Linked DNA regions of Homo sapiens: regions 2 and 3 are each linked to region 1. Evidence: fine-mapped expression QTL. A gene starts in region 1. Each other region holds a variant in brackets. All regions are shown on one strand. Distances are from middle to middle.

Region 1 (11,262 bases):
AAAGGTCAAAGGCAAAGCAAAAAATTTCTGAGTCAAGCAATGAGAAGGGTTTTTTAAAAAAGAAAAAAAAACTTTGGGAGAAGTATAAGATGTAACATGGGTTGAAGGAAGTAAAGGCAGGAAAAATTAAGATCTATAAACTCTGAGAAGGTAGTTTGAGCAGAAGTAAAAAACATTAGTGACCAAAAGTTTGGAAATGATTCAAGAGTAGTTAAGTGCAGCCAAGTGCAAACAGAATAGTCAAATTTTCACTATCTTCAGACATGAAAATTTGGAGAATTGTTAGATAGCCACAAATGCAATATAGTGGGGGAAAAGACCACAGAGCATATTTGTCAAGATATAAGTCAACAGGACAGAGAATAGAGTCCATCATAGCACCCTCTTTAGGAAAAATTGTTGCTAATTAATTTATATTTGAATATAATTTGAAAATACTTTGGTAGATGGAATTTGTTATTCTCTGTTGACTCTTACTTATAGGAAATTCTTTTTGTACAAACCCTTTTATGCTATAGTTCAAAAATATTGATCTATTCAATACACATTTACTGAGCCCACTGGTGCTGTGGGCACTAGAAATACAACAGGTAAGGCTTCTGTCTAACAGTGGTCTTCAATAGGAATACAGAATGAGAAGCTGAAGTCACGTGGCCAGAGCTGGAAGCCTAATTCCATTGTTTACTAGCTGTGTAAAATTCACTTTGATATCCCCACCTCTAAACTGAGAATAATAGTTCCTCACTTGTTTACCTTGAACATGCTCCTTGTTTTGAGAATCAAATGAGATGATATATATGTGTGATAGGCTCTGTAAATTCATAAAATACTATATAATCTGAGTAACTTTTGCATTAGCCTTGTTTAAATCCTTCTTTATATGCCTAAAACTTTTTATCCTAAAACCTTAGCCCAGGTCCTTGCACATAGTAAGTGTGGGCAGCAATTATTGGATATTCCAGCGAATGAAATGAAAACATATTAATATTTTTACTCTCACGGCTCTTATGTGCTACTAAGATGACAAGAGACAATAAGCATAATAAATTCTTTAATGATATAGTATACTAGAAGGTGATAAATGCTGTGGAAAAGAAAATCAAAGTAGGATAAGAGGAACTGAGAGTCCTGAGGGTACAAGATCCAACTTCTAATTGAGAAGAGATTTTTAGGAGGTGAGAGTGTCCTCCATGTCAGTATTTTGGGGAGGATAATTTTGGACAGGGGGAACAACTAGTACAAACACCCTGAGGTGGAGTGCTGCCTCTCTTGTCTGAGTAATATCCAAGAGGCCAGTGTGGCTGGAGTGGAGTTAGGCAAAGACAAAATAAATAAAAATGAGATCAGAGAGGTCACGGAGAGGGCACAGCATTGTAGGCCATGACTGAGTGAATTGGGGGCTACCACAGAAATGTGAAGAGAAGAGTGATGTGATGTGACTCACATTTCAAAAGAATCATCCAGGCCATGCTTTTGACAATGGACAAAGGCGGAAGAGGAGGAAAGGACAGAGGCAGAGAGACAATTAACAAGCTATTATAGAAAATCAGGTGGAGATGATAGTGGCTTGCATGATGGTGGTAGAGCTGGAGGTGCAGGGCAAAGGTCAGATTCTGAATATATTTTGAAAGTAAAGGCAACAAGATTTCCTGACAGATTGATTATGGTGTGTCAAAGAAAGAGAGGAATGCAGGATGATTCCAGTGTTTTTGTTGACAACTATAAGTCTGGAGCTGCCAACTGGATGCAGAAGTTCACTGGAGGGCCCAGCCTGGGGAAAGGATCAGGAGCAGGTTAGGCATGTTAAGCTTGAGATGTCTGTTAAACATCCAGATAGGAATGTCAAAGATGCACTTGTGTTTAAGAGTCAGGAATGCAAGAGGGAATTTTAGGCTAGAAACAAAAAGTTAGAAATTATTCGATACAGATGGTATTTAAAGCTGTGTGACTGACTGACATGACAGAAGTGGCGAGAATAGACTGAGAAGTCCAAGGAATGAGCCTTGGACCACTCCAGTGTTAGGTAAGTAGTTGAAAAAAAGAGAGAGAGAGAAGGCATCAAAGGAGACTGAGGAAGAGTGATCAGGAAAGCATAGGAAAATCCGAGAAACATATGGTGTCCTGGAATCTATATGAAAAAGATATATTCAGAAAGACAGAGTGATAAATCTGTCAAATTATTGAATTTGTCAGGTAAAATAAGAACAGAGAATTGATCTTTGGACTTAGCAAAGCAGAGATTATCAGTGACTTTTATAAAAATAGTTTCGGTAGTGTGGAAAGATCAAACTTCTGTTTAGAGTGGGTTTCAGAGAGAACAACAGGAATTGAAGAAAGTAATAAACTTTGCCAACCAGTTTAGCTCCAAAGGAAAAGAGGGAAATATGATGGTAGCTGGCAGGGGAAGTGTGGTCAAGAGAGGTTTTTTGTTTGTTTTTCAAGATGGAAGAAATAACAGTATGTATGTAAGCTCACAGGAGGGATCCAGCAGGCATGGGGAAATTGATGATATAGGACAGAAAGGGAAGAATGGCTCCTTGTGAAAGTGAAAGGGGATGGGATCTACAGGATGAACATGCAAACAAAGACTGGCTGCAAAGAGAGGCATGAATAGTTCATTTACAGAAACAGCAAAGGCAGAGTGTTGGTACAGATGCTGGTAAGTGGAAAAATATCATGGTAGGAGGTTATGGAGTTCCATTCTAAACACTTCAACTTCATCAGTGAAATAAGCACGGTAATTTAGCAGAATGTGAAGATGTAAAAGAACAGAATTTGAGAAAACAGACGATATGAAATAATTATTAGAAAAGCAGGTGAGTGAATGAACTAAGAAAACATCTTATGACTATTGGTCAGTAAACGTTGGGATACATAGTGAATTTTACAAAATCTTTGCCCTCATAAGTCTTGCATCCCACAGAGTGGGCAATAAATAATAAACATAATAAGTACATTATGTATACAGTATAGGGCCATGTAAGTTCATGGCGAGGCAAGCCCGATGACTTTGTATTTTTCTTCAGACATGTTCTGCTGCATGGTGTAGGTTCACAGTAGCTCAGTAACTTGAATTATCCAGGATTGTGGTTTTACTAAGCAAGCCTGATAAAGAGAGAGGGCTAGAGGGTTGTGGGTGTTTTCAGGCTGAGTTAAGAGAGAAGACATGAAGGAGGTGAGGAACAGTAAAAAGGTGGTAAGATCAGTGGACTGAAGGATGCATTAAAGAATGACTGTGTTTAACTCTCTGATACATCTGACGTATGTTCTCCATCTCCACTTCCCTGCTAGTCATAGCGGATAAGGATACTCCCTGGATTCGAATTCTAGTTCCATCAGTTATAAGATATTGATTCTGTTTTACTTTGTCTGTCTCATTCCAAAACACATGTCTCTAATTACCATAGTTTGATAATGAGTTTTGATATTTATTTAGTAAGGCAAACCCATAAATAACTGATAATTTTTCAAGATAAAAGTGAAATAAATTTTCAGGAAAAAAAAGCTGAGAAAATTTGTCACAAACTAAAGAAAACAAGAAAGAGACAGTAGATGAAAGAGTGCTCATTAGGTGAAAGGAAAATGATCCAAGAGGGTAGCTTTGAGATGTAGGAAGAAACAAAAAGCAAGAAAATGATAAATGTTTTGATAAAGCTAAATAAGTATCAACTCATAAAGAAATAATATTCCCAGAAGAGTCATGAATATACAGAGAAAATTAAAGTACATGACAATGGCAATGTAAAAGTTAGGGGTGAATAAAAAAGAGACTTAAGAGTTCTAAAATCATTGCATTGTCCTGGAAGAGGAAAAAGTACAATGATTAGTCAAAGATACATGTCATAATCCCTAGAAAGGAGATCATTATTAAATAGAAAATAAAAGAATACATCTTATAGAAAGGAAATCTAAATGATAATATTAAACAGATCTAAAATAAGGCAAAAGTGAGGATAAAAAAGAAAGATGGAACCAATGGGGCAAATAGAAAAAGTAAGATAGCGTGGTAGGGCATTAATTCCAGCCTTACATCAATGCATAAGTATCTCAATATTCTACTGTAAAGGGAAAGTAAAGATTTCTTACAGCCTGAGTGTAATGGAGAAATCTAGTTTATCATAGTGCTTTAAATATTGTAAGTCTTCAACTTCTAGTTGATGAATAAATGATGGAATTCTCAGTGATACTGCACTGTTATCAAATAAATATAAAAGGAGCTCCTGGAATTGGATGTAATACAGGTAAAGAAGTAAACACAGCCATATAGGCATGGCTTCTTGCAGGGACAACTTTGTGAATCGGCTCAGACAGACAGACAGGCAAATACACCTCATTGCCTCATACATGTTATTTGCTTTAGTTTTTGTTCTGAACCTTCCTACTCCTTCAAGTATCTGCATTTACTTTATCAAATTCTCTTTTATTAGAGACTGAAGAAACTGTCATCTCCTTATGTGCTAATGAGTTTAATAATGTCCTCCAGTCACCACAAGCCTTCTTTCAAACTACACAATTCCAACTGCTTCCGTCTCAGAGTATCTTGAAATAATGATCTGACCGCCTGTTAGACCAGTGAAGGGAAGGAATTTGGGTTGATTTAAGAAGAGAATCCTCATGGTCATGGTAGACTGATATGGAGAGAAAACATTTTGAGGAAAAATACTCAACTAAATTCATTTCTACTCCAGCATGCAGTTTCAAGTCAAGTTCCACCTTAGCTCCAGGTGGCAGGCAGAGCAGGATGCAGAGGCACAGCACAAGTAAGGGGTGAGTGCCGAAGCTGCTGGCTCCTGTTCCAGTCTTTCTTCCTTGGCCTCGCCTGAACTTTTACTATAATAATAGTCACCATTTATTAGGTGTCTCCTACGTGCAGGACACTTTACACACAGTATCCCTAATCCTAATAACACCCTTATTTTATAGATCCAATGACTGAGTCAAGAATTACATAACCTGGCCAGACAGCTGGTACATGGGAAAGGTGAGATTCACACCAGGGTCCACCCAGCATCTCTACTTATACCATGCTCTGCTTTAAGGTTCTCTGAGAACTCAGACAAGCCTTGGGCTAACAATTGTGTTAACAGGACATAGCAGGTGCAAGGACCCACTGGTCATCCTGCTACCTGATCAGAAGGAAGGAAAGTTGTATTTGTTGCTCACCTACTATGTTTTAGGCATAGTACTAGGTGCTTTTACCTAGTACTTAATTCCCTTATCCTCAACTCATTTATTCCTCGCAATAACCTGATAAGGGAGATGTTTTTATCCTCATTTTACATATAAGGAAACAGGCCTAGAGAAATGAGCACAGTGTCCAAAGTCACATAGTTAATAAGATGTGAAGCTCTGAGTTTGAAAGTCTCCGGTTTCAAAGCCATGAAACTTATGGCTCCCCGTTTTAGACACTTCCTTTTGGGAAGAGTGTGGAGGAATTAATCAGAAAGAAGAAAGTCATACTCAAATAGGTGGTAGGAGCAGAGACAATTCAATACAGACAGAAGTCTTAGATGAGAGCAGTGAGCCAGGGCACTGGACTGGGACTCAGGAGGCTTCCCCTAGACTCTGGTTCCACCGATGCAGCCTCAGGCAGGACTTCACCTCTCTGGGCATCCGTTTCTTCATATGTTAAACATACGGGGTTTTAATTAGATGATCGCTGAAGACCCCTCTAGCCCTAAAACTCTGTGTCTCTTAAGTGCTAAGAGGGCACCAACAGCGTTCCTCCTCCCCAAGGAGCATAATGTGATGGTTCCTGCCGGCCCTGGCTGACTCTCGCCGTCCTTGGAGATAATTGGGTTCAGTGCCACCTGGACCAGAACTGGGGATGCGGAAGCAAGAGGCGAGTCTATTGCTCTCTCTCGGTCCTGGGCCGCCCTGTGATTGTTGGGCGTCCGGAAACTGTCTCCCCTATGGGTTTAAAAACAAAACTGAGCGCCCATGGGGTGTGACAGTCATCTGCAGGGGCTTGGGTGGCCCATCAGGCGAGGCTTTCTCGGCACCCGAGGCTCCAGCCTGATCTCGGTCTTATCCTGCGACCGGGCTGGTTCTGGCGGGTCGCCAGGGTGGGCGGCGGCCCCAGCCGGGCGCCCCGGCGGCAAGAGCGGCAGGCTGCGCCCCTGGCCCGCGCCTAGCCTGGGGAGAGAGCTGGGCGGGCGGCGGGAGCTGCTCTCGCGGGCCGCGGCCCTCGCCCTGGCTGCAACGGTAGGCGTTTCCCGGGCCGGACGCGCGTGGGGGGCGGGGGCGGGGGCGGGGGCGAGGCCGCGGCGAGCAAAGTCCAGGCCCCTCTGCTGCAGCGCCCGCGCGTCCAGAGGCCCTGCCAGACACGCGCGAGGTTCGAGGTGAGAGAGGTCCGGGCGCGTCTGGCCTCGAAGGGAGACCCGGGACGTGGGGCGCGGGGCGGGAGTGGCCGGACCTCCACCCAGTGCCCCCGGGCCCCGCGACTCGTGCGCCGGGCCGCCGGAGAGGGTGTACTTGGTTCTGAGGCTGTGGTTTCTCCTCAGGCTGAGATGGATCTTGAGGCGGCAAAGAACGGAACAGCCTGGCGCCCCACGAGCGCGGAGGGCGACTTTGAACTGGGCATCAGCAGGTACATCCCCAGCAGCCACTGGCTTTTCCGTTACACGCCAATCAGCAGGACTAAGTTCACCCTTGGAAAGAAGTTGTAAAAATCGGTTGATGCCTTTGAAGACCTTTGTTTTGGAGGCTTCTTTGAAGGGTCTTGCATCCGGTTCTGACCTTGGAGCAAACGTGTTGTGTGGCCTCAAAGAATGTCACTGAGGCTCCTTTTGGAACAGATTCAGGAAGAAAAGGCTGTCTTGAAAAGTGCTCCCTTCCCTTTGTGCAGGGGGGATTCAATGAATATCTGCATTGTATAACATTCATTGTATTACGTAACTCTTGAAACTTTTACAAATGACTTTCATATACATCATCTGATTGTTCAGACTTAAAGGGTGTCAGACATCTGCTGTTGATGGCTGTGCTTTTTGAACAAGGGCAGTGAAGCAAAAACTCCCTCCCCTCCTGCCCATCCCCTGTTATGTCTCTTCCTCCTTGTCTTACCCCTCCCCCTCCTCTCATCGCCAGGCTTATTTGTATTTCTCCTTTCTGGGAGGATAGGTGGGGAGGGGGAACTTCTGTACATCCGAATCAGTTTTGTTCAAGTGGTAGGGGGAAGCAGCGCTTCCTTTGCCTTCATGTCTTTCTCGGTTCCCCTGGCCCTTGTTAAACTCACTTCACAGGCTTTATGAGCGGGGCAGAAGTTCCCAGTCAATGGCGTGTGTCTTTGTTTCCTCTTTCACTGTGGGAATAGTGAATCATTTTCGCCTTTAGCCTGAAATAGTTTATGAGGCTATTACGGTCTCTGAGTTCATACCAGGCTACCCAGAAAAAATTGACCTGTGTCAAGTGATCACCCAGAGGGACAAATTTATCAGTCTCTGTAGTTTGTCCTCAAGCTGCTAGGGGCTTGATTAGCTAACTGAAAACATGCCTACCTGATGCTTAAACTGAAGCATTATTTTAGCCTGTTAATGTGGTTGTGCAGTAACCTTGCTGTATTTCTTCTAAGCACCATTGTATTTTTTCATAGAAAATTTAGTTTTGCCATGTAGAATTGAAAAAGTGATAGATGGTGTTACTTCCAATGGAAGTACTTACACACGCAATAGAAAAATATGGTTTTCATCAGCTGGCTGTTTAGGCAGGGATTGACTGTGAGTCTATTAATAGATGGCATTTTCATGAAGAAGTCTATTTATGTATTGCACTGGCTTAACATTTGATGCGTGTGCAAAGGAGCTATTCCTACAAAAGGTGTAGTAACACTTCAGAACCCAGGAAAGTCCTCAGAGGGGAAGCCCACAGCTTCTGCTGGAAAGAAGAAAGCAGCTCAAAAGAGAAATACAGAAAGTTAACAATAAGTTAAGACCACATGATTATGAAATCAAATGTAGTGAAACTAATTTTTATAAAAGCAGACCAAAGATAATATATTTAAAGGAAGTTAAGCCTGCTTCAATCAAATTAGTTATATTCTTGTTCTAATTATGTTGCTATTGCCCATGGCACATTCTTTTGAACATATTTAGTGGCAGATGTTTGTCCAGTGATTTTAGTCAATACTTTACATAATTTGGAATCATCTTATGAGTAAAACTTTATCATTTACCTGGATAAATGCATCATATTTATGTAAAAATCATCATATATATATAAATCATCATACACACACACACACACACACTCCCTCATAGAGTTTATATTATAGTACGGAGGACAGACATAAATAATGTACATACTAAATAAGTAAACCACAGCCAATGTTAGAAGGTAATTAACGCCATGGAAAAAAGCATTAATCCAGGTTAAGGGGATCAGGAGTACAAAAGGGGAGTACTTTGTAATTTTAAGTAGGGTGGTTAGGGTAGATCTTATTTTAAAGGTAATATTTGAGCAAAGACTTGAAAGAAATGAGAGGAGACAGCTGTGTGGGTATCTAAGGGGAGAGCATTCCCGGAAAAGGTAACTGGCAATGCAAAGACCCTGAGTCAGGTACATGTTTGGTGAGTTCATGGAACAGCAGAGAGTCCAGGCTGGTTGGAGCAGAGTAAGCAGGTTTGGGAGTAGGGATGTGGTCAGAGAGGAAATAAGCAAACAGATCGTGTAGGACCTCAGAGGTTAATGCAAGGATTTTGGCTTTTATTGTAAGAAAAAGGAAAGCCATTGTAGGTTTTTGAGCAAAGAAGTAGTGTATGGCTTGGCATTTTGAAATAATTACTCTGACTGCTAGTTGAAGATAGACTGAAGCGGCATAGGTGGAAGTGGAGAGACTAGGCAGGAGGCTGCCCTACTGGTGACAGCAATGAAACTGGTGATAAGTGGTTAAATTCTAGATGTACTTTGAATGTATCACCAACAAGATTGCCTGACACCACTCTCCACAATCCTTCAGAAGAATAGACATTCCTAATTTTAAATCATGATTTTTTTTAATTTTAGAAAACAAATAACTTAATTGACTTAGCGACACTGTTAGCATACTTATCTTTCCTGTGTATGTGAGCTCTGTAAGGCAGGCGACCATTTCTTATGTATCCATGTATCTTTGTAGTACCTTCGACAGTTACTTTTGTGCTTGCTATGTTTGTTGAACTGAATAATTTTGACATTTTGTGAACATCACTCTTATATTTGAAAATATAATAGTTGAATATTGTAACTAAACATATTTATGTTCAATTGATTGTAAAACATTTTGTAACAGTTTTAAATTGAAGCAATTCTATTTTTTACAGCAAACAAAAAAGGAAAAAAACGAAGACAGTGAAAATGATTGGAGTATTAACATTGGTAAGCTGTGAAATGTTAAATGTGAATAATCCTACCTTTTATTCAAATTTGAGGTATTGAATCAATTACCTTTAAAGCAAATACTTTAAGATTGTCTAGCTAGGCGAGCTGACTCATACTTGTAATCCCAGCACTTTGGGAGACTGAGGTGGGAGGGTTGCTTGAGCACAAGAGTTTGAGACCAGCCTGGACAACATAGTGAGATCTCATCTCTACAAAATAATAAAAATAAAAATCTTAAAAAATAGCATATGTCATGGCATGAACCTGTAGTCCCAGCTACTTGGGAGGCTGAGGCAGGAGGGTCTTAGGAGTCTGAGGCTGCAGTGAGTTATGATCACACCACTGCACTCCAGCCTGGGTGGCAGAGCAAGACCCTGTCTCAAAAACAACGACAACAAAAAACTGTCTGCAGACAGCAATAAATTGTCCTTGCTGCACCTGTGCTGTATAAGTTTGGCTTATTATAGTCAATGACCCACATTCTTAAGATGGATGATTTTTTAAAAAGTAGAGACAGGCTGGCGATGACACCGGACAGAGCTAACTGGTGTGCAAGGAAAGTGAAAATGGGAATTGTGTTAGTAGCACAATGCAAACTCAACAATTTCAAGAAAATGCATTTCTGCATTTGCTTCACAGACCCCCACCCCAAATTTAGCTTAAAATAAGCTTGCATTTCAAGAAAGTAATTGTTAAGTACATAAATTTTAATTTAAGGAATCTACATTCACATTTGGTTTCCAAAAAATTGGCTAAATAGGGGGTAACTATTAGGAATTCTGATTATGCTTAAAACAGTTTTCGGTGCTTTTCTGTTGGTACAAGACAAGACAATATTTTTGGAAGAAGTCTCCTCATCTGGTTTTCATTTGAAATATGTCTTACAGAGGCAGCTCAAGAAAGCATTTGCCCATTTTTGGTAAATATGACGTGTTTCAAACTGTGACAGCCATTATTTGGTAGCAAAGAAGTTAGAATTAAGTGTCATGTCAGCTGAAATCCAACTTAGTAATTAAATGGATAAAAAGACACCAAAACATCCACACTCTCAAACACTGCTGCATACTTCTCATGTAACCAAAAGCCCCTATTCATTGTCTTCTCTCCTCTTTTTTTATTTGTTTAAAAAGCCTCAGTAAGGGCAATTTAAAAAAAAATTAGCACTTTGGAGAATAAATTGTTTATCAAATGAAAGCTGGTTTTATTTATTTTTTTAGAAGTTTTTTTTTCTTTATTTTTTTAAATTTGTTTAAATTATACTTTAAGTTCTAGGGTACATGTGCATAACGTGCAGGTTTGTTACATATGTATACATGTGCCATGTTGGTGTGCTGCACCCATTAACTTGTCATTTACATTAGGTATATCTCCTAATGCTATCCCTCCCCCATCCCCCCACCCCACAATAGGCCCCGGTGTGTGATGTTCCCCTTCCTGTGTCCAAGTGTTCTCATTGTTCAGTTCCCACCTGTGAGTGAGAACATGAGGTGTTTGGTTTTTTGTCCTTGCGATAGTTTGCTGAGGATGGTTTCCAGCTTCATCCATGTCCCTACAAAGGACATGAACTCATCATTTTTTATGGCTGCATAGTATTCCATGGTGTATATGTGCCACATTTTCTTAATCCAGTCTATCATTGTTGGACATTTGGGTTGGTTCCAAGTCTTTGCTATTGTGAATAGTGCTGCAATAAACATACTTGTGCATGTGTCTGTATAGCAGCATGATTTATATTCCTTTGGGTATATACCTAGTAATGGGATGGCTGGGTCAAATGATATTTCTAGTTCTAGATCCTTGAGGAATCACCACACTGTCTTCCACAATGGTTGAACTAGTTTACAGTCCCACCAATAGTGTAAAAGTGTTCCTATTTCTCCACATCCTCTCCAGCACCTGTTGTTT
Region 2 (11,262 bases), 23 kb before region 1:
AGGCCCTGTTTCAAATAAAAAAAAAAAGTTAGGGATAGATAACTGCTGCCTCGGAACTAACCCAAATTAGGGTTCAGTCATCTGATATGACAAATCCTTTGTTTTCAAAAACCTGTTCTATTTCACTGACACCTTGTTAAGAAGGATCTATTGTTGTATTGTTGTGGAGCTTTTTTTTTTTTTTTTCTTTGAGATGGAGTCTCGCTCTGTCGCCCAGGCTGGAGTGCAGTGGCGCAATCTTGGCTCCCTGCAAGCTCTGCCTCCCGGGTTCACACCATTCTCCTGCCTCAGCCTCCCGACTAGCTGGGACTACAGGCACCCACCACCAAGCCCAGCTAATTTTTTGTATTTTTGATAGAGATGGGGTTTCACCGTGTTAGCCAGGATGGTCTCAATCTGACCTTGTGATCTGCCCGCCTTGGCCTCCCAAAGTGCTGGGATTACAGGCGTGAGCCACCATGCCCGTCCTACTGTGGAGCTTTTTATGGAAGAGGAATTAGGGAAAAGAACTATTATGAGAATTAATCTATGTGATTATGGAATAGGTTGTCCAAGAAGCCCTGGACAAAGCCAGAGAAGGCCGCACCTGCATTGTGATTGCTCACCGCCTGTCCACCATCCAGAATGCAGACTTAATAGTGGTGTTTCAGAATGGCAGAGTCAAGGAGCATGGCACGCATCAGCAGCTGCTGGCACAGAAAGGCATCTATTTTTCAATGGTCAGTGTCCAGGCTGGAACAAAGCGCCAGTGAACTCTGACTGTATGAGATGTTAAATACTTTTTAATATTTGTTTAGATATGACATTTATTCAAAGTTAAAAGCAAACACTTACAGAATTATGAAGAGGTATCTGTTTAACATTTCCTCAGTCAAGTTCAGAGTCTTCAGAGACTTCGTAATTAAAGGAACAGAGTGAGAGACATCATCAAGTGGAGAGAAATCATAGTTTAAACTGCATTATAAATTTTATAACAGAATTAAAGTAGATTTTAAAAGATAAAATGTGTAATTTTGTTTATATTTTCCCATTTGGACTGTAACTGACTGCCTTGCTAAAAGATTATAGAAGTAGCAAAAAGTATTGAAATGTTTGCATAAAGTGTCTATAATAAAACTAAACTTTCATGTGACTGGAGTCATCTTGTCCAAACTGCCTGTGAATATATCTTCTCTCAATTGGAATATTGTAGATAACTTCTGCTTTAAAAAAGTTTTCTTTAAATATACCTACTCATTTTTGTGGGAATGGTTAAGCAGTTTAAATAATTCCTGTTGTATATGTCTATTCACATTGGGTCTTACAGAACCATCTGGCTTCATTCTTCTTGGACTTGATCCTGCTGATTCTTGCATTTCCACATTAAGGTGGCTCTCAAACCCAAAACACAGATCGATATAAGATTTTAGGAGGTGGGGTGAGGCACAATTATGAAGTGCATATTATTCAGATGTATAGTAAATACTTTGCATTGCTTTTATAAAGGGTTCTTTAAGGATTTTTTAAGATTTTTACACTTCCAAAGTACATTTACTTTTTGTCTTGATAATGAATCACTTTTGCCAGTAATTGGCCTCTTCCAAAAGTGATCCTTCTGACTTACAGATGTTTAAAATGTGCCATGAGTTTAACTACATCTTGATACAAACATGATAAAAAAAGAAAAAAATATATTCCAAAGGTTGGGACTCTGGACGACAAATTTTTTTAAATTAGCCAAAAAGCATTATTAACATTATAAACTATATTTACTATAAACAATTGCTATCTTAAATAAGCAACTTCTAAAAATAAAAAAAAGAAGCCATCACCTCCAGGAAAAAAAAATAGGAAAGGATATAATCAGGTAATTCTCAAAGAAGAAATGCATGAGAAAAATGTATACAGTTTCAACAATCAAATAAATGCAAATTAAAACAAAATATCATTTTTTTGCCTTGTAATTTAATGATGAATAAAAAAATCTAATGTGACATTCCTTATTAGTTGAATTGGTCATTGATATAAACTTCTTTGTTATTTGATAATGTAAGTAAAAAATGTAAATGTATATCCTTCAAGACAGCAATTGTAATTATAAGGATTTAAGAGATATGTAAAAGGATACTTTTAGTAGCATTACTTATAATATTGAAAATTGGAAAGATCTAAATATTTAACAGTAAGAAATTATACATTAAGTTTTGGTGCATTCACAAAATGGAATACCATATAATCATTAGAAAATTATGTTGAAGAATATTACAAAATATAATTTGTATAAAGAAAAAATGGTTGCCAAATGGCTTGAACAATATGGTGGCTTTTTAAATATTATATATATAATATAAATCTATATTTATGTATCTATAGTTATCTATCTATATTTATGTATCTGTAACTATAGATACAGTCTATATATAATTATATATAATTTTATATATATATAATTATATATAATTTTATATATATATAATTATATATAATTTTATATATATAATTATATATATAATATATATAATTATATAATATAAAATTATATATAATTATATATATAATATATATTATATATATAATATATATAATATATATAATTATATATACTATATATATATTTAAACTTCTGAGAGACAATCCAAAATAAACCAGAATTAGAAACAATTTTATCTCCTAAGTTTTCAGCTTTTGTTTTAAAATTTTAAGGCTTTAAAAAGTGTGCTTAGTTTAGGAAATTTCGATAAATTTATGTGAATAGAAGCATAAAACCATGTCACTTGGTTTGACTTCTTAAAGATTTTTCCCTCAACTCTTTGTATGTCTGCTGTAAGGACACTTTCTTTTTTTTTTTTTTTCTGAAGCGGAGTCTTGCTCTGTTGACCAGGCTAGACTAGAGTGCAGTGGTGATCTCAGCTCACTGCAACCTCCACCTCTGGGTTCAAGCGATTCTCCTGCCTCAGCCCCCTGAGTAGCTGGGATAAAAATTCTTAGATGTCTATAAAAAGAAAAATAAAAGTATTTTTTACTGTCGTTTGCACAGTCTAGTTGCTGTAGTTGGTGACACTCGCTGGCTCTCTCTGAACCATGTTTCCCTATTCACTGTTTTGCCCTGGCTGGAGTTGCATGGAGGTGGAGCCCCTCCCAGGGCCTCCAGCTTTTTCTGCTTGAGTATATTGCTGCCCCTTTAGCATTAAAGGCTGTCAGAGAGGGGGTGCTCTTTTTCACACCATTTATTTTCTCCAAATTTACCTCACAGGGTCAATTACCACATTCAACCAGTGATCTCAGATGCAACAAATGATTTTAGTACAAGCAAAGTCTCACACAAAGACATGTACACCATTATTTGTAACACTCCTATAATAACTCTGGTAAAAAGTAAGAGAAGCAGAAGTTCTTATGTTTAAGAAACATTTTCTTGAGTGACACAAAAGGTGATTACAGTAGTGAAGCTGTAGGACTATGTGATTAAGTACCAAACTGTGTCACACATCATGGATAATAGTTAAAAGCATGTGATATGGTTTGGCTCTTGTGCCTCCACCCAAATCTCATGTTGAATTGTAATCCCCAGCGTTGGGGAATGGACATGGTGGGAGGCGATTGGATTGTGGCAGCAGAACAGCAAGTTCTCATGATAGTGAGTGAGTTCTCGCAAGATCTGATTGTTTAAAAGTGTGTAGCACTTCCTGCTTCCCTCTCTCTCTCTCCTGCCACCATGGGAAGATGTTCTTGCTTCCCCTTCACCCTTCTGCCATGATTATAAGCTTCCTGAGGCCTCCCCACCCACGCCTGCTGTACAGCCTGTGGAATTGTGAGTCAATTAAACCTCTTTTCTTTATAAATGACCAAGTGTTGGTCTTCATAGCAGTGTGAGAATGGATGAATGCAGCAGAGTAGCGGGAGTGTGCATAGTGCAGAGGCTGCCTGGTGGGAAGGGACTGTGTTGTTTGTTGTGTTGTGTTTCATAGTCAGCTGTGTAAATTTGTCTCCTCAGCAGGGCCACACGCTCTGTGAAGGCTGGGTGACACTGTATTTATCTTGGTGTCCCCAAAAGCCTAGAAACAGTGTCTTAGGCATAGTAGACACTACTAAATGTCTGGTGAAGTAAATTATGGGATGTTGGTGGGGTACCAAATTTAGGTGGGGCCAAATTGTGGTAAGCCTAGAATGCCAGGCAGAGTAATTCAGATTTGAAGAGAGAGAAAATGAAAAACCATTGATGACTCTGAATAGGAGCATAATGTGGTGAAAATACTGATACCCACTCAGAGGGATTGGACAGGAAAAGCCCTGCAGTGAGTTGAATGGTGGCCTCCAAAAAGGCATCTCCGATCCTAATCCTCAAAAACTATGAATGTGACTTTACTTGTAGAAAAGGTCTTTACAGATATAAAGATCTTGAGGAGATCATCCTGGATTATTCTGGTGGGCCCTAAATCCAAGGTCCAGTGTCCTTATAAAAGTGAGGCACAAGAAGGTTTGACACAGAAGAAGAGGAGGTGATGTGATCATGGGAGCAGAAATCGGAGTGATGCAGCCACATGTCAAGAAATGCCAGCAGCCACCAAAAGCTGGAAGAGACAAAAAAATGGATTATCCCCTGGAGTCCATGAAGGAATTGTAGTCCTGCTGGATTTTGGATTTCTGGCTTCCAGAACTAGGAGAGGAGAATCTTCTGTTGTTTTAACCCACCATGCTTGTGGTAATTTGTCACAGTAGTCTCAGGAAACTAATACATGCCTCAAATCAATGAAGCTAAATAAGATGCTTTTATTTAAGAGAAAACATGCAAGCGACGAGGGTAATGTGGCTCTGAGTTGGGCTGGTAAAAGCAGAGAACAGGTAGCTATGAGAAACACTCACAGCCTAGTAAGAGAGGGAGGGAGAATAGAGGCCAGCTGGGAAATACTGTGACAGTGAGGGAGATGAGGAACTCTTTAGAAGGAGGAGGATTTGTTTGTATGGCTTGAAGATGATATCAAAGTAATAGATGTTTGAGGTGTGGCCCTCAAGATATAGGCAAAACACAGATGGATCCCAGCATGTGCGACTTGTTTGAGTTCAATCCTTTTCTAGCCCAGGCTTCTTTATTTTCTTAGTTCCACCCCAGATTATCCAGTTATACCCAACTTTAACAATGGTGGTTCTTCTGTTTGGTTCACCAGAATCAACTCCTGATGTTGGGACAAAATGTGCTTCAGTCTCTTTCCTGACACATAATGCAGCCATTTGTCCCCAGGTCTCAATAAGAGGTCTTTTTTAGAAATGCGTTTTTCTTATATCTCAGCTTAAGGCTCATGCTCTGATGTGTGAACCCTTTGAGAGAGGACTGTCTTTGCGTCACTGTGTTCCGGTGTTTGGCAAAGTCCTTGGCATATAGCAGAGGCTCAATAAGTGTCTGTTCTTTTGCCAATTTTTTTTGTGTGTGTGAAAAAGTGTGTACTTTTTCTGGGTCAGTTTCATTTTATCACAAATTAATATCTAAAAAGGCTTTTGTTAATATAAAATATATAAAGAAGATTCCTATCTAAAGCCATGTAATTGTACATGAAAAATAGGGAAGCCCATCATTACAGTAACACCTGAGGACTGAGCCTTACCCACTATACAGAATAAAAGAGAAAAGACTTATGCAAATTGTGTGCTCTTAATTTTAGAAAAGAAAATATATATATATGAAAGTTGTAGTAGTACAGTAACAGTATTGTACCAATTTCAGTGTTCTGGATTTGATTTTGAACTACAGTCACTACATGTCATCATGGAAGAAAGTTGGGTGACAGGTACACAGGATGCTATGTAGGAGCCCCCTTCTCACCTCACCTCCCAGAAAGAAGAAGTAAAGAACAAGCCTAGCGATGGGAGGAGGGGGAGGGGTAAGACATGGAGGAAGAGACATAACAGGGGGTGGGCAGGAAGGGAGGGAGTTTTTACTTCACTACCCTTGTTCAAAAAGCACAGCCATCAACAGCAGA[T/C]GTCTGACACCCTTTAAGTCTGAACAATCAGATGATGTATATGAAAGTCATTTGTAAAAGTTTTAAGAGTTACATAATACAAGGAATGTTATACAACAGAGATATTTATTGAATCTCCCCTGCACAAAGAGAAGAGAGCACTTTTCAAGACAGCGTTTTCTTCCTGAATCTGTTCCAAAAGGAGCCTCAGTGACATTCCTCGAGGCCACTTAACACTTGCTCCAAGGTCAGAACTGGATGCAAGACCCTTCAAAGAAGCCTCCAAAACAAAGGCCTTCAAAGGCATCAACCGATTTTTACAACTTCTTTCCAAGGGTGAACTTGGCCCTGCTGATTCACATGTAATGGAAAAGCAAGTGGCTGCTGGGCATACATCTGCTGATGCCCAGTTCAAAGTCACCCTCCACTCTCCCAGGGCGCCAGGCTGTTCCATTCCTTGCCACCTCAAGATCCACTTCAGCCTGGGGAAAAACCACAGCCTCAGGTCCAAGTGTACCTGCTCACTTGCTCCAGCTTTCAAGGGACAACCAGCTTCTTTGCAGCCCCCACCTGAGGGCCCCGAGCTGGACGCATGGGTCACAGGACCAGGGGGGATCCTCCTGGTGAAGGTTCTGCTGCTCCTGTCCTGTGCCCACCATCTCCAGGGTCTCCCTCTGAGACCCCTGCTTGACAAAATAGGTTTCAGGGTATTTTAAGCCAAGGACCAGATCCTGAACTGTGATGATCCTGCACTGTCAGAATCCAGTCACTATTCTATGAAAAGCCCATGTTACATGGGGTGACTATGTAACCTGACCTAGCCCACTGCCAGCATCAAGTGCCAGCCCCCAAGATGGACCCAATAAGCATCTGACCGCAACCTCATGAGATGAGAACCCTCAGCAGAGCCCAGTCAATCTATACAACTAGAAGATATCATAAAAACCATTTGTTTTAAGCCAATTCATAACCAGAACAAGTAATAACCCTCCTAGTTCCAGAGCCTATCAAGGACTTTCAGTGACCTTAACTCTCTTGATCTTCAAAAAAATCCCTCTTAGCTGCAATATCATGGTGGGCACCTGGTTTATCATTGTATACATCAATACCTCTATCAATACTTGGCATATCAAAAGTCTTCAATAAAAATATTTGTTAAATGAAAAAAAATAAGAGATTTGTTGCTCTTGGGAAAAAACAAAGATTAAACACAAGATTTTCAGGGAGCACTTCCTGCAACTGTAGTCCTTTGTCCCAGCTGGAACTTCCGACACTGAGATGAAAGACCTCTGCCCTTGCAGTTTGGAGAAATCAGAATAGCAAAGAGAAAAGCAGGAATGCTTACAGATATGTGCAAGGGCAAAGATATATGATGAAATATTTTTACCTGGGCTCTTTCAAAAGAGTCAGTTTGGGTCAAAAGGAAAAGTGACCTTTGAGTTGAAACCCAGTTTTCGCTTTCTCAACTGGGTGGCTAAATTTAAATGATTTCCTTCTCTACACAAGACGCTGTGTAAGAGTATGATTATGCTTGGTGTATAGCCAAGCTCCTAGGCTCTCCAGTCAGAGAAACCTGGGCTTCTGTTCTGGCTGCCAGTTTGCTAAAATGTGTGGCTTCTTGGGCAAGTTACTTACTTTTTTTAAGCCCCTATTTCTGCATTGGAAAAAATGGAATTTCAATGTCTACCTCATTGAATTAGTTGAGCACTAAATACTGTAATGAAGTATTTAAGACAATACCCAATACTTAAGATATAAGCAAAAAAAAAAGCTGATTGCCTTCATTTCATATTTTTCTTGCTCTTCAAAGCTACCACTTCTCTTGCATGAAAAGGAATTTTTGTATTTATCCATGTAGCAATTATTTTAAGTGCCTACTGGCCTAGATATTGGGAGCACAATGATTAGACAAGGAGCTTACAGCTTAGGAGACAGGACATAAGTTTAGTAATGTGCATTGATGCCATGATGCAAGATGGTGGGGTGTGGTAGTGGGGACCAAGAAAAGAGCAGTTACCTCTCTGGAGAGTGGTTTAAGGGCTAAAAAATATTCCAGGGCAACGAAGATGTCCTTTGGAAGGTAAATAGATGAAAAACTGTGTTACATCAAGACAATGAAATATCACGCAATGCTAAAGAGAAATGAGCCATGAAAAGCCACAGAGGAAAATTAAATGCATATTACTAAGTGAAAGAACCCAATCTGAAAAGGTTCAAACTGTATAATTCCAACTACATCACATTCTGGAAAAGGCAAGACTATGGAGATAGTAAAAAGATCAGTGGTTGCTAGAGATTGGGGGAGTGAGGGATGAAGCACAGATAATTTTTTAGGGCAGTAAAACTACTCTATAAGATACTACAGTGGTAGACACATATCATTATGCATTTGCCCAAACCCACTGAATGTACAATACCAAGAGTGAACCCTAAAATAAACTATTTGGACTTTGGGTGATGATGTGTCAGTGTAGAGGAATCATTGCAATAAATGTGCCACTCTGGTGGGAAGGCAATCAATGTGTAGAAATAGGAGGTACATGGGAAGTCTCTCTACCTTCCACTCAATTTTGCTGTGAATCTAAAAAATGCTCGAAAAAAGAAAGTCTATTAAATAAAAAGCTTCCTGGATAATGGAATAGATGCATGTCAGATGGACAATAGAGGAGGAGTGTGGATGTGGAGAGCAGTATAGAACAGTTTAGAAGGCTGGAACCAGAAGTGATTCAGTGCGGTCAGAGTTTTAGATGTTGGGTGTGAGGAAGGGTGGGTAGAGGCCCCAAGGAATGGGGCAGGGCCAGGCAGGACCTGAGCCTGAAGGATATTGTGTGCCAGAATAGCTTTTATTATTTTTATTTTTGTTGTGATTCTTTTGAAATAATATGAGTGTTGAGATATGCCTCACTTTAGAGTGGCCTTATTCTTTCAAATGTACCTGTGCGGTGAAATTTTGTAAAATAAATCACATTTTACTTTTTCCATTATAAAGATGAAAATATAACACTTTACAAATTCCATAAGTAAAGGGAAAAAAGGACCAACTTCAGACACCTGCCTTGTGACTCCTGAATGTGTGGGTAGACTGCAAGAGAGCTTTTGTATCTGTAGAATTTCAACCACAAGCATGGGGGTTGGTGCACACAGCATTCTAATATCATAGGCAGGGAATCACATTATTCTATTTGGGGATGGGGGGAAAGGCAAGGTGAGGGAAGGAATATATATGTATGTTTGTGTGTGTAAATATATATATATTATATATATATTATTTTAAATCAAGAATAGAAAGACAAAACTAAACAATATTATCTAAGTCATAAATATAATATTTTAGTTATATATTCAAGCCAGTTTGCAGTTGAGGCTTTCTATTTTCATCAAGATTTTAGTACAAATTATTTTTTAATTTCCGAAAGAGTTCATTGTCCCTTGTCAACTCTCTCTTGTGCAAAACGTCTCGATCAGCATGGGCAATGACACCGTTATCCCAATTCTTCAGTTTAAACAGATGACTCATGCAGGACTTATCAATGATTTTCCATGTTATTTTGGGATAGTGCCAGGTCTAGCCAAAATATGGCTGAGATTTCCCGAATTATTTGAAAAACCCCATGACCACAATATTCTACCTCTTTTAATTAAAGAATGGTATAAAGTTCTTTGGATTCAGAGAGTCCAGGTCAAGAACATATGCATATAGACAAAGCCTGGAGAGAAATATGCCAAAAAGGAAATAGGTTAAAGTTTATTTAAAACAATACTAAGGATTTCCTTTACGAGAACAAATATTTTTAGGACTGTTTAAAAGTGTCAGAGACTAAACACAAAATGCTGGTGTTTCACAAAAAAATTAGCATTTATGAATTTGTGTTTATCATATACTTTACTTCAGAAAGCAACTTTTTTGAGTAGCTAAAATTTTGATTATGGATTATTTTTTGTTATAGTAATGAAATTAAATTCATTCATTGATAGCTGAAATTAGATTTAAATACTTCTTTTAAAATTCTTGATATTTGCATTTATGCTAGAAAGGCTACCTTAGCCAACAATTTTATTGCATTGCCCATCAAGGCTAAAGTCATAAGTTAGCTATGAAAATTCTCTGCACTGAACTCCCTTATGCTTTCTGTATTTCTTTATGTTTCACTCTATATTTTAATTATTTCCTATTTTCACTCTGTTTATAGCTATTTTACATACCTAAGGGCTAGTCTCTATCTTACTATCTTTGTGTCTTCACTGTCTCAACACAATGTCTTGACACAATGGGTGCTGTCTTTCAAAGTGTTGCATAAAGCACTAGTCACTATAGCAAAGAAATGGAATCAATGGAGATGCCCATCAATGTTGGATTGGATAACAAAAATTTGGTAAATATATACTATGGAATACTATGCAGCCATAAAAAATGAAGTCATGTCCTTTGCAGCAACATGGATGCAGGTGGAAGCCCTTATCCTAAGCAAACTAACGCAGGAACAGAAAACCAAATACTGCATATTCTCACTTATAATTTGTAGCTAAGCATTGAATATACATGAACACAAAGATGGGAACAATAGACACTGGGGCCTACTTGAGAGGGAAAGGTGGGGGCATGTGTGCTTTGGAAGACTACCTATTGTGTACTATGCTCACTAGCTAGATGACAGGATCATTTGTACACCAAGCCTCAGCAACACACAATTTACCCATGTAGGAAATCTGCACATGTACCCCTGGATCCTAAAGTAAAAGTAGAGGAAGAAGGAAGGACAAAACAAATAAAAGTGTTGCATGAATCATGAACAGACATAGCTAGTCAGGAAATGGTAGAGTTAAAATACCTGCTGGCAGTTTCCAGATTCTTCAGCTTCAGACATGTGCCAGATATCTTCCTTTTGCCATTCCATATCTATTCTCCACCCTCCCCTCCACACTGCTGTTTACTTTAGGAAGTTGACTTCTGTGGGTTCAGCTGAAGGGGGTGCCTGGAGACAGTTGGGGTGGATCACTGCTCTTCTTGAAGCAGTTCTATCTACATGATGCTCAATATGGCTTCTGGGAACTGCTCCTTTCCCTCATCCATGCTGGCCTAGGGAAGGCCATACACCTCCCCAGTGTTTGTGGCCCCAAGATATTTTGCTATCTATTATGGTATATCCACTATGCCCTATGTTCTACTCCTACCTTTCTAAATAGTTCCTTCATTACATCCTCCTTGAATATCCTAATTTGAATATGCCATTTGTTTCATGCTGAGACCTTGACTGATACATGACAATTCAAATTATGGCAAAAGAATCCACCATTCTTGACCAGTATAATCATTGCTTTCTCAAAATCC
Region 3 (11,262 bases), 97 kb after region 1:
TTAATATTGTTAAAATGTCCATCCTACCCAAAGCAATCTACATATTCAATGCAATTCCTATCAAAATACCAACAATATTCTTCACAAAAATAGGAAAAAAAAATCCAAAAATTCATATGGAACCACAAAAGACCCAGAATAGCCAATGCAATACCAGGGGAAAAAAAAAAAAGCTTGAGGTATCACATTACCAAACTTCAAAATATACCGCCAAACTATAGTAACCAAAACAGCATGTTACTGGCATAAAAACAGACATACAGACCAATGGAACAGAATAGAGAACCCAGAAATAAATCCGTGTATTTACAGGCATCTCCTTTTCAGCAAAGGAAAGGACAGGCTCTTCAATAAATGGCTCCATGAAAACTGGATATCCATATGCAGAAGAATGAAACTGGACCACTATCTCTTACCGTGTACAAAATTCAAATCAAAATGGATTAAAGGCTTAAATATAAGACCTGAAACTATAAAACTACTAAAAGAAAACATTGAGGATGCTCTGTAAGACACTGAACTGGGCAAATATTTCTTGAGTAATACCCTACAAGTATGGAAGCCAAAGCAGAAATGGACGAATGGGATCATATGAAGTTAAAAAGCTTCTGCACTGCAGAGGAAACAATCAGCAGCCCACAGAATGGGAGAAAATATCTGCAAACTATCCATCTCCCAAGAAATTAATAATCAGAATATATAAGGAACTTAAAAAACTCAATAGCAACACACAAATTTATCTGATCTAAAATGGACAAATAATCTTTTTTGTTGTTGTTAGACAGTGTCTTGCTCTGTCGCCCAGGCTGGAGTGCAGTGGCACGATCTCAGCTCACTGCAACCTCTGCCTCCCAGGTTCAAGGGATTCTCGTGCCTCAGCCTCCTGAGTAGGTAGAGGTACAGATATGTGCCCCTACATCAGGCTAATTTTTGTATTTTTAGTAGAGACAGGGTTTCGCTATGTTGGCCAGGCTGGTCTCAAACTCCTGACCTCAGGTGATCTGCCCACCTCGGCCTCCCAAATTGCTGGGACTACAGGTGTGAGCCATGCGCCCAGTGACAAATGATCTTAATAGACATTTCTCAAAAGAAGACATACAAACAGCCAACAAGTATATGAAAAATGCTCAACATCACTAATCATCGGGAAATGCAAATTAAAACTACAATGAGACATCACCTCACCCTAGTTAAAAATCACTTTTATCAAAAAGATAGGCAATAACAGATGCTAGCAAAGATGTGGAGAAAAGGGAACCCTCATACATTGTTGGTGGAAATGTAAATTAGTACAGCCACTATGGCGAACAGTCTGAAAGTGCCTCACAAAACTAAAAAAAAAAGAACTACCCTACAATCTGATGATCCCACTGCTAGGTATATATCCAAGAGAAAGGAAATCAATATATCAAAGAGATAGCCACACTCCAATGTTTATTGCAGCACTATTCACAATAGTCAAGATATAGAATCAACCTAAGTGTCCAGCAGATGTATGGATAAAGAAAATGTGGGCCGGGCGTGGTGGCTCACACCTCTAATCCCAGCACTTTGGGAGGCCAAGGCACGCAGATCACCTGAGCTCAGGAGTTAGAGACCAGCCTGGCCAACACGACGAAACCCCATCTCTACTAAAACTATAAAAATTAGCCAGGCATGGTGGCAGGCACCTGTAATCCCAGCTACTCAGGAGGCTGAGGCAGGGAGAATTGCTTGAACCCAGGAGGTAGAGGTTGCAGGGAACCAAGACCATGCCACTGCACTCCAACCTGGGCGACAGAGCAAGACTCTGACTCAAAAAAAAAAAAAAAAGTGATATACATACACAATGGAATATTACTCAGCCAAAATAAAAAAACAAAGAATGAAATCCCTTCATTTGCAGCAACATGGGTAAGGCTGGATAACTTTTTGTTAAGTGAAATAATCCAGAAATAGAAAGACAAATACTGCAGGTTCTCACCTATATATGGGAGTTAAAAAAAATTGATCTCGTGGAAGTAGACAGTAAAATGGTGGTTAACAGAGATTGGGATGAGTAGGGGGGAGAGGAGATTGAAGAGAAGTTAGCTAATGGGTATAATGGTACAGTTAGATGGAATAACTTCTAGTGTTCGATAGCACAGTAGGTTGACTATAGTTAACAATAATTTGTTGTATATTTCAAAATACCAAGAAGAGAAGACTTGGAACATTCCCCACACGAAGACGTAATAAATGGTTGAGGCAGTGGACATCCCAATTACCGTGATTTGACCATTACACATTTTATGCATGTATCAAAAAAATCACATGTACCTGATAAATATGTTCAATTATAACTTATTTATCAATGAAAAAGCAACATTGAGGGACTTCTACTTCTTCTTAGGATGTATTAAGTCACAAAATTAATGTCGCTCCTATTCTAAAAATGAGTAAAGGCTGGATAATTTATAAAATCACAACTTTTCATGAACCCATCAGAAAACTGACGTTGCAAGAAAACCAAGCGATCTGAATGCCAAAGATGACCAATCCTCTTTCAGATGAGAATAGACACGTCAAAAGTTATCAAGTGGATACTGTGATAAAGTAACAAGGAAAAACTGTGAAACCACCACAGATCAGAAATCTAATACTCTATTGATGGAAGTACAAATAGGACACAGTACCAGCTGGGAAAAAAGTGAGCAAAAATACTGAGGAGTTAGGATGAAATAGCTATAAAAAAAGATATACCCTTGGACTTCAAGACTGTGAAAATAGAAACTGAATGGTCCTTACTGTCCATGAAGTCTGTAATAGGCCAGCTGAAGTGCAAGCTGAATAAACGTATCCGGGTGAAGCATCTTGTTCTTGGTTAGCTTTTTGCCAAAAGATGTAAAGGCATAAGCCGCAATCTGTAGATCAGATGCCTAACAAGAAGAATTAAATGAGAACGGTGAAAAATCACCTAAGGAGAATACACCAAAGAGAAGCAAATTATCACCTGCATTAAAGTAATCACCAGACATAAAGAATTAAAGGTGTTAAAGGCATAATTTTAAAATGTTTTGTGCAGACATGCTTGGATGACAGCCAAATTTTTACATATGGTTGTTAAAAGAAAAAATCATTATTATTTAAGAGAAAAGTGAAAAATATACCTCCCTGAGATACTGGGCTTTAGCTTGGTTGATGTCATTTAAAACTTTCTCATCCACAATGAAAATGAGCTCTTCTGGAAGTGGTATATCTCGTACCTTCTCTGAACCCTGAAAATAGGGAAGACTTAAAAATATTTTATCTATAGAACTATTAGGAGAAAAAAGATGAAATATTTATTCAAACATACCTTCCATCTTCCTTCATTCTGAAAAATTTTCTCATCCACATAATAACTGATGTTCACCATAATCATTGCATCAAAAGGAGCATGCTAAAATGAGAACACACAAGATTTCTGAATACTTTATGTCAACTTAAAACTTGACCCAATATTTTATTTTCACTTTGTGTCCATTCTTAACAGATAATAAAGCATAGAGTCTTCAAATGCCTCACCTCTTGAGGATATGATAAGATAGAAGATTCCCTACAGTTCAGTAACTGCTATATTTTATTTTTTGGAAAAAAAGTTGTTTAAATTTGGAAGCACCTAGTAGGGCTTCTGGTGGGGCTTGGGGTCATGAGGGTGTATAAAATAACATATAAACAATCTAGATAAATTAATTGCTATTTTTACTAGAAGTCAAAGCAAGTGTATATATGCAACACGAAGATGTTCTGGAATTGTAAGAACAGGGTGGAAAAGCAGATGGGGATGGCAACCTATCTGAAAGCATTTGGGATGGGCATGAACTTCTTTAGGTAAGGACTTAGGCCACTTAGTGAATATTAGAAAGCATAACCATTTTGTGTTTTTTATACATATGAATGTCCCAATGTGATAATTCTCAGTTTAAGAAATGTGGGAAAGATAGGCTGGGTGTTACGGGGCTGTTTCAGGTTTGCCAGGTGTATTTAGAGAAAGAAATTGCAGTTAGTGAATTTTCCCATCATCTATTTTGAAGAACAAAGTTTTTGCCCGCATTTTCCCCATGTTCCTTAGATAAAAGTTACATCAGACGGTTCCTTGTGACTGTCACCACTTTACATTAGACACAGATATCATTCATGATCTGAACGTGACACTGCGAGCTTGGGAGGGAAAGAAGGGAAGTAGTATCAAGATATGGGCCCAGTTTCAGAGGAGTAATTAGGTGTCTTAAATGTCACCCTAACACTATAGCTCTGTAGCCTGTATCATGGCCCAGCGGAGCCTATAAACAGGATTTATTGTTACCAACCAGGCAACAACTACATCAGGAAAGGCTCTTGAGGGAGGTCAGTATAAGATGCCTGAGCAGTTTATCTGCCAACAACAGCACACATGACAAGACTCACAGGTCGCTGACAAACCCATTTTCTAACAGTATCTCACAACTGTGTGGTACTTTACAATTTTACAAAGAATTTTCAGATATTATCAAATATATTGTTTCATTTAAGACAAACAGCATCAGTTTCCAACTATTTTACTGGAGCCAGTAGGAAATAGCAAGAGTGAAGGATGTCTCTTTGAGCTATAATTCTAAGCACCCATCTCCTAATGGAAAGCTAATAATCTCAAAGAAGGTAGAAAATATATAAAATTCCAATGCTATCCTGATGCTTTATTTGTTCACATAATTTTTACCTTTCATTTCTTGCACTTACACAGAGGCAATATGTATTTACATAGTGTTTAAGAATGTAGGCTTTGGTTCTGAGTTCAAACTACTTCCTAGCTGGGCAATAGTAAAAAAGTTACTTTGCTTTCTAATTAAACTGCCTCATTTCCCTGTAGAGATAATGCATACATACATACAGATGCTGTGAAAAATGATTTTTATACCACTTACACAGTACTTACCAAGGATCTAGCTCACAGCAATAATTAGTAACTATTGTTATTATTAACTAAAGTTTTTACATGCTTCCTATGCACCCTCTGCAAAGCCTTACAATAAAGCCTACAATATAGAGAAGACAATATAGTTGACTTCAGGTTTATAAAATAGGAGGGAAATGGAATTAATATAATCACAAAAGAACATATTCAAACAATTAAAATTATGGACCAGCAACATGGCTTTAGGGTAAAATAAGCTTTATTTTACAGTACA[T/A]ATGCTTATTTTTCTTCTTATTATTATTTTTGGGACAGGGTCTTGTTCTGTTGCCTGGGTGGGAGTGCAGTGGTACAACCATGGCTCACTGCAACCTGGACCTCCTAGGCTCAAGTGATCCTCCCACCTCAGCCTCCCAAGTAGTTGGGAGTATAGGTATGCATTACCATGCCCAACTAATTTTTTATTTTTTGTAGAGATGAGGGTCTCACTATGTTGCCCAAGCTGGTGCTGAACTGCTGGAATCAAATCCTCCCACCTTCGTCTCCCAAAGTGCTGGGATTATAGGCATGAGCTCCCATGTTTGGCCTACAGCATATGTATTTCACTAATGATGATTTACAAAGGTTAAACTGCACCCTCTATAATCATCTTAGGTTAGAAGGGAAACCTCCATGGAATTTAATGCAAATTATCAGGTGGAGATAATCAGATCAATTTTATGAATATATGCATGTTAATGCACACACATAAAACATGTCCGCACACTATAAAAAAGCAGTTCAGTTATGCTGAGAGATATGCTCATTATGAGCCCAATATTCTTTATTCAGAGACAGACAAGATTATCAAAATTATTTTCATCTTGAATTTGTGTGAACAGCAGGATACTGGTGCTATTAGTAAAAATCAGTTTAGCAAAAGGTGTTTTTTGATGGTCTTGGGGATGAGGGACGGAAAGCAAGATGAGTTATTCTTGATGAGATTGACTTACTCTTATATAACAATATAACATCCAATTTGAACAATTTAACATATAATGAAACACAACTCTCAAATGAGAATAATAGGTAAAAGCTAGAAAAGTATAGCTGCAAGTTACATATATAACAATAGGTCAATAAAGTGGTCAGAGGGGGAAAAGTGTGATGAATATTAAGGTCAGTTTCAGAATCAGTAGAGAGGAAAATACTGTTAAGAGGAAAGAGGCAGTGTCAAAATATGTATGCAGAGGGTAACCAACTGCAGCAGACAGGTCAAAGGGAAATGAAGGGAAGAAGCCAGGGGGCAGTTAACCACCTTACAAAGGGTAGTTTGCAAGGAATGGTAAGGACATAAACCAGACTGAGGAAGGTCAAGGAGAATCAAATGAGGAGCTGAAGAGAAGAAAACTGAGGCAATTAACAAGAACTATTCTGTCAACAGTAGACTCAAAGGAAGAGTAAAGAGAACATCTTCAAAATAAATGACTTGTGGCAACTTTTCACTGTAGCTCTGATGAGATACTCCAATAGACATTTACTTTCAGTGCCTATTAACCAATCCACCTTGTTCTGAAATAACAGCTACTTTACTGTTCTTTAGGCAACCAAGCACCACTTTGTAGTGGTTTGAATGAGACTGATTCTACCCACTAGATTCCAAGGTTGGGCATGTGACCCAGGCCAAGCTCATCCAAGCACCTGATTCCCCAGGATGGGGACATGAATCACACAGGCCAATCACAACTGATGAGGATTATTCCAGGACTTTTGCTGTAACCATTGGAAACAAAGAAGCTGACTATTTCCTTTGGGAGTCTATGAAGAAAGCTATGAAGATATGAGACTGTTGGTACAACAATCACATTGGGCAGTCTACCTAAATATGAGGCCAAACAAAAGAAAGCAGTACCAAAAAATGGGGAGAGATTTCTAATGAAAGCATTTGAACATTGAAGTCAGCTTTACCCAAATTTAGCTAACTCCTTGCCAACAAATATCTTCTTACGCTAACGCTAGTTTGATTTAGGTTTCTATCACCTAAACCTGAATATGGATTAATACAACTACTGAACCCTTTTTTTTTTTTTTTTGGAGTCGGAGTCTCAGTCTGTTTCCCAGGCTGAAGTGCACTGGCCCAAACACTGTTCACTGCACCCTCAACCTCCCAGGTTCAAGCGATCCTCCTAGACCTCAGCCTCCCAAGTAGCTGGGATCACAGGCGCACAACACCATGTGAGGCTAATTTTTGTATTTTTTGTAGAGACGGGGTTTCATGCCATTGCCCAGACCAGTCTCCATCTCCTGGGCTCAAGTGATTCACCTGCCTTGGCCTCCCAAAGTGCTGGGATTACAGGTATCAGCCATCATACCCAGCCCCAAACCCCTTTATAAAAAATTTTCTTGGTTCATAGACCTCCTGAATGCCTATCAGACAGTTAGTAGACAGCTAGTGAAGATGTCCATGGGAGGGGAACAGAGGAGAAGCAAGAAAAGTTGTTCATTTTTTATGAAAATGGTCAAAATGGTAGTAACTGCCATTTTAATATCCACAGCCTAAATAGTGTTCCAAAGATTATGTGTCATTTTAGGAAAATAGTTACCTAGTTACTAGGTGAATCTTGAACTCTATAAATATATCCATATGCATTGCTCTGCATAGAACACATACATAATGCCATATAATACCTTTTGAAATAGGTATTCTCAGCAAGCAGATAATACTGGGTTTTAAGAGCTTATATTACATAAATATTATATGCAAATCCCATTTTGCAGATATAGTACACAACAAACTGTTGGCCTTACTACAGAAGAAAATAACTTGTCCTATACTTTCAATGAGAATTCATAACTAAACTTTTCACCACAGTGCCATAAAACTAAATTACTATTCACTTACACTGTTCCCCAGCACAAGTATTTATGGTTTATTGTCATTAATTTAACCTAAAAGATCAAAAGAGAAAAATTTCAGTAGTTTACTTACATCACAATTACAGCCAAATACTCCATTAGAAAAGGAAATCAAGTTATAGGATTTGTCACCCCAGCGTACTGTTGGATCTCCAATAAGGATGGCTGCAATAATCTAAAATAAATTTAATTTTTCCAAATTAAAAGGGTTTAATATTGGTTTGTAAGAATTTACATCTTAAACACATATATCATCTCACCATTCCTCTTCACGTCAACCAAATTTAATAAAATCATAATATAGTTATGATCAGCAACACTGATATGTGATATGCAAAGTCAAGAGAGAGTAATTCTGGCCCTGACTTTAGGGGCTTCTCAAAATCTCAAGTTAAGAAAATCCTACCAGAAAAGAAAATGCTGGTACAATATTCATGAATGTTTACAGAACATAGAATTGAGAGGATAAGGGTTTTGTAACTTGAATAGGATAAAAGATCTTGATAAAAGTTTAGTCATTAAAGTCTAGTTAGGAGGAAATATTTTAAGAATTCGTTTCCTACTAAACCTGTTTTTCAAACTGTATACTTTGGCCTATTAATGGATCATGAAATTAACTCAGTGCATCATAATCAATATTCCTTACAAAAAAGGAGAATAAAATAGACTGGAAATATCAGTGTACCTCACAGACAATAAAAGTAATTAGTGCTCTGTGAAACTCCTATTTTATATATGTGTTTGCATGCATATACACATGTATATATAGTGGGCTGCAATCTAAATGTATTTGTAACTAAAAATTGTGGTCAAAAAACTTTGAACAACACTGCATTAAAATACATTCTTCCTTAAAAAGAAGTCTGGTGATTCTCAAAAAAAAAAAAAAATCTCTCTCCTTGCTACAAGGTTTTCCAATCCTTGATATTTTTTCCTATTATTTAATACCGATTAATTCACTATAAAATAATTAAGTATTTTCAAAAGACTATGAGATTTCTAATACAATTACTATCTTTTATTATTTCCTGGGACACAAATGTCACCCTGGGGGTGGCAGGGGAGCATAAAATAAGGCCATATTTACCCTTAACGTCACTGACATCAATGTGTTCAGCAATTAACCAAATGATAAAATAAATGACTTACAAGGGTGACATAATTCTTAGGAGACACAGTCCCAACTATGGTGTCAAGATACACTAGTGCAGGTTATGATTAGGTTATCATTTCACCTTTGGCAAGAAAAGCTCATTAACCTAGTGCTCTGTGTAAATTTTCTGAGTAGGCAAGCAATGAAAAGGTTGAGCAACACTGATATGTGATATGCAAAGTCATACTTCTTTAAACAAAGTATAATATATAGCTAAACAAACTTAAACAATGTGGCAAGGATTTACCAATTTACTATCTACTTTATAAGCTTCAATTTGGCACAAGTATATTGTATAACTAAGAAAAAGTTTCAAGAGCCTAAAGGTAGAAAAAGAAAAAAAACTTCCATGTTCAATAAATATGAGTCTTCCAGAAAAATCTGCAATAAAAAAAAAAAGAGAAGGTAGTTAAGTACCTCAGAATAATCCTCTGGTGTTACATGTGGACTGCTATCCTCCATGGAATATACCAGTAAACTACTCTGAATTTTTTCTAACAAAGCCAAGTTCTCTGGATCAAGACCAATCAGATATTCTCGTGCCTAAAGGGCAAGGAGATGATGATCAAATATTACAACTGAAATACAATACATCAAAAGAGTTTGTTAGAGAAAAGCTTCGTTAAGAAAAGTGTAAATCAGAACCTTAGCCCATCGAGTTCGCTCCTCACTAGTTAATGCTGCAATCCCAGGTCCATCAGGTTCACTATGGCACTTCTTGTGGATATATGTCAGTTGTCTTATGGAAGATGAAAAGAAGATTAAAAAAGAGTACAGGCAGAAAGTAACTACTTTGGCCTTTAAAAGGTCATAACATTGATCAATATTTAAATGTTTGGATATATTACCCAAAGAAACCACTTATGATGCCAATAGATTTCCTACATCACATATTTTTTTAAGTGATTGTGTTCTATTAACACCAAAAGCATATTTGACAATAATTTAATTTCAGTAAATAAATTTAGTTATTGGCTAAATTTAGTTTCGCTGATATATACTTTGGAAATGTGCATGCACTTCTAGGTTGCAAGTAAATATCCTTTTTACTGTAAATATCCTTACAATGGAGAACTTGAAAAATATCCTGGTAATCAATTTCACAAATATAATGTACATCTTATCTAACTAAAATCTATGTGCGTATATATTTAACCAGAGGACTTACTGTATACTCAATTAATATTTGTGTTTTACCAAAAAAAAATAGAAATACCATATAATCAGTTTTAACTATTTTCATATGTGCCACTTTGTTACTTCTAATCATTATATTTTTAAAGACTCTATTAGCTAAGGATAAACTACTCCCCCTCCACAGTATTTTATGCTCCTAGATTGGTGAATTTCATGTATCTTTAAACATACAGCAGATAAATAACTGGGTTCTCCCATAAAGAAATTTACATCAGTCAAAAATCCACAGAGCTTTAATTTAGCTCAATTTCATGGCACATGTTAAGAAATTACTTCAATTTAAAAGCTTTCAAGGATTTCTCAGGAAGTGAGCTAATGTAGCTTAATAAATGGTCAAAAAATGCTACTAGTAGCCATCAGTTCTGACTTCATCATTCAAAATTGGAATTCATCATTTATCTACTGATTTGCATACTCTCCTCTGTTTGTTCATTATATCTGTAACACTGATAAAGAAATACATTTCTTGCTGAAAAATTCCCCCCTTGTTATTTGCAAATTAATGGTGTCCTGAGGAACAGAATAAGGGTTTCTTCACCAATCTGCATCTATAGCAGAGCAACTTGCTTTGCCTCTCTTCCTGCTTACTTTCTTTAGTAACTACTGATTTTGCTCCAATTATAAGTAAAGCTTTTGCAGTTGTGGTTACTAGCATAAACTCTGAATTTCTAAATAAAATCAACCTGTTTCTCTCCATATGGTACTTGTTGCTACCTTTCCCTTACCAACTACCTCAAAGCACGAGTTTTGACTATGAAACTTTTACTTCCTCCCTGAAATGATCATTTTCATGTTCGTTTTACAAGGTGGTCATTATTAGGGAGAAATTACAAAGGAAAGTGTGTTAAACCTGAAATGACATTTTAAGTTTGATAATAAAAGGTCACATAACTGCCCAAATCGCCACCATTAAGAGATACAGATTTGGTAACAAGATAATCCCTCTTTTCCTTTAACTTGGCTAACTATGCACCTGTTTTTCAGCTACACATCTAATTTTTTATATTTCAAAGCACAAAGATTTGTATTAAAAATATCTGCATTACAGAATCATATATTTTTTTAAATATTCTATAACCCACACAGTCTGGCTTCTGCTTCATCGCTTTCCATTCACTCTTTAATT

The links.
Region 2: its variant is fine-mapped to the expression of ABCB4 in whole blood (TOPMed, PIP above 0.99).
Region 3: its variant is fine-mapped to the expression of ABCB4 in whole blood (TOPMed, PIP above 0.99).

The regions. Positions count from the first base shown.
Region 1 is chr7:87,470,713-87,481,974 of GRCh38, reverse strand. ABCB4 (ATP binding cassette subfamily B member 4) reads left to right here and starts at 6,295. Exons shown (of 28, transcript NM_000443.4): 1 at 6,295-6,341; 2 at 6,504-6,589; 3 at 9,300-9,354. The coding sequence starts at 6,510. RefSeq lists silencers at 5,919-6,168, 6,219-6,418, 6,429-6,568 and an enhancer at 7,039-7,108.
Region 2 is chr7:87,493,733-87,504,994 of GRCh38, reverse strand. It overlaps ABCB1 (ATP binding cassette subfamily B member 1), which reads left to right. Exons shown (of 28, transcript NM_001348946.2): 28 at 546-1,978. The coding sequence ends at 752. Among named protein-coding and RNA genes, the nearest start is that of ABCB4, 24 kb to the right of the region's middle. The variant T/C (reference allele first, on the strand shown) is at 5,955.
Region 3 is chr7:87,374,048-87,385,309 of GRCh38, reverse strand. It overlaps CROT (carnitine O-octanoyltransferase), which reads right to left. Exons shown (of 18, transcript NM_021151.4): 8 at 9,585-9,678; 9 at 9,357-9,482; 10 at 7,860-7,961; 11 at 3,317-3,400; 12 at 3,129-3,236; 13 at 2,767-2,897. It also overlaps a transcript of ABCB4 not described here. Among named protein-coding and RNA genes, the nearest start is that of CROT, 34 kb to the right of the region's middle. The variant T/A (reference allele first, on the strand shown) is at 5,169.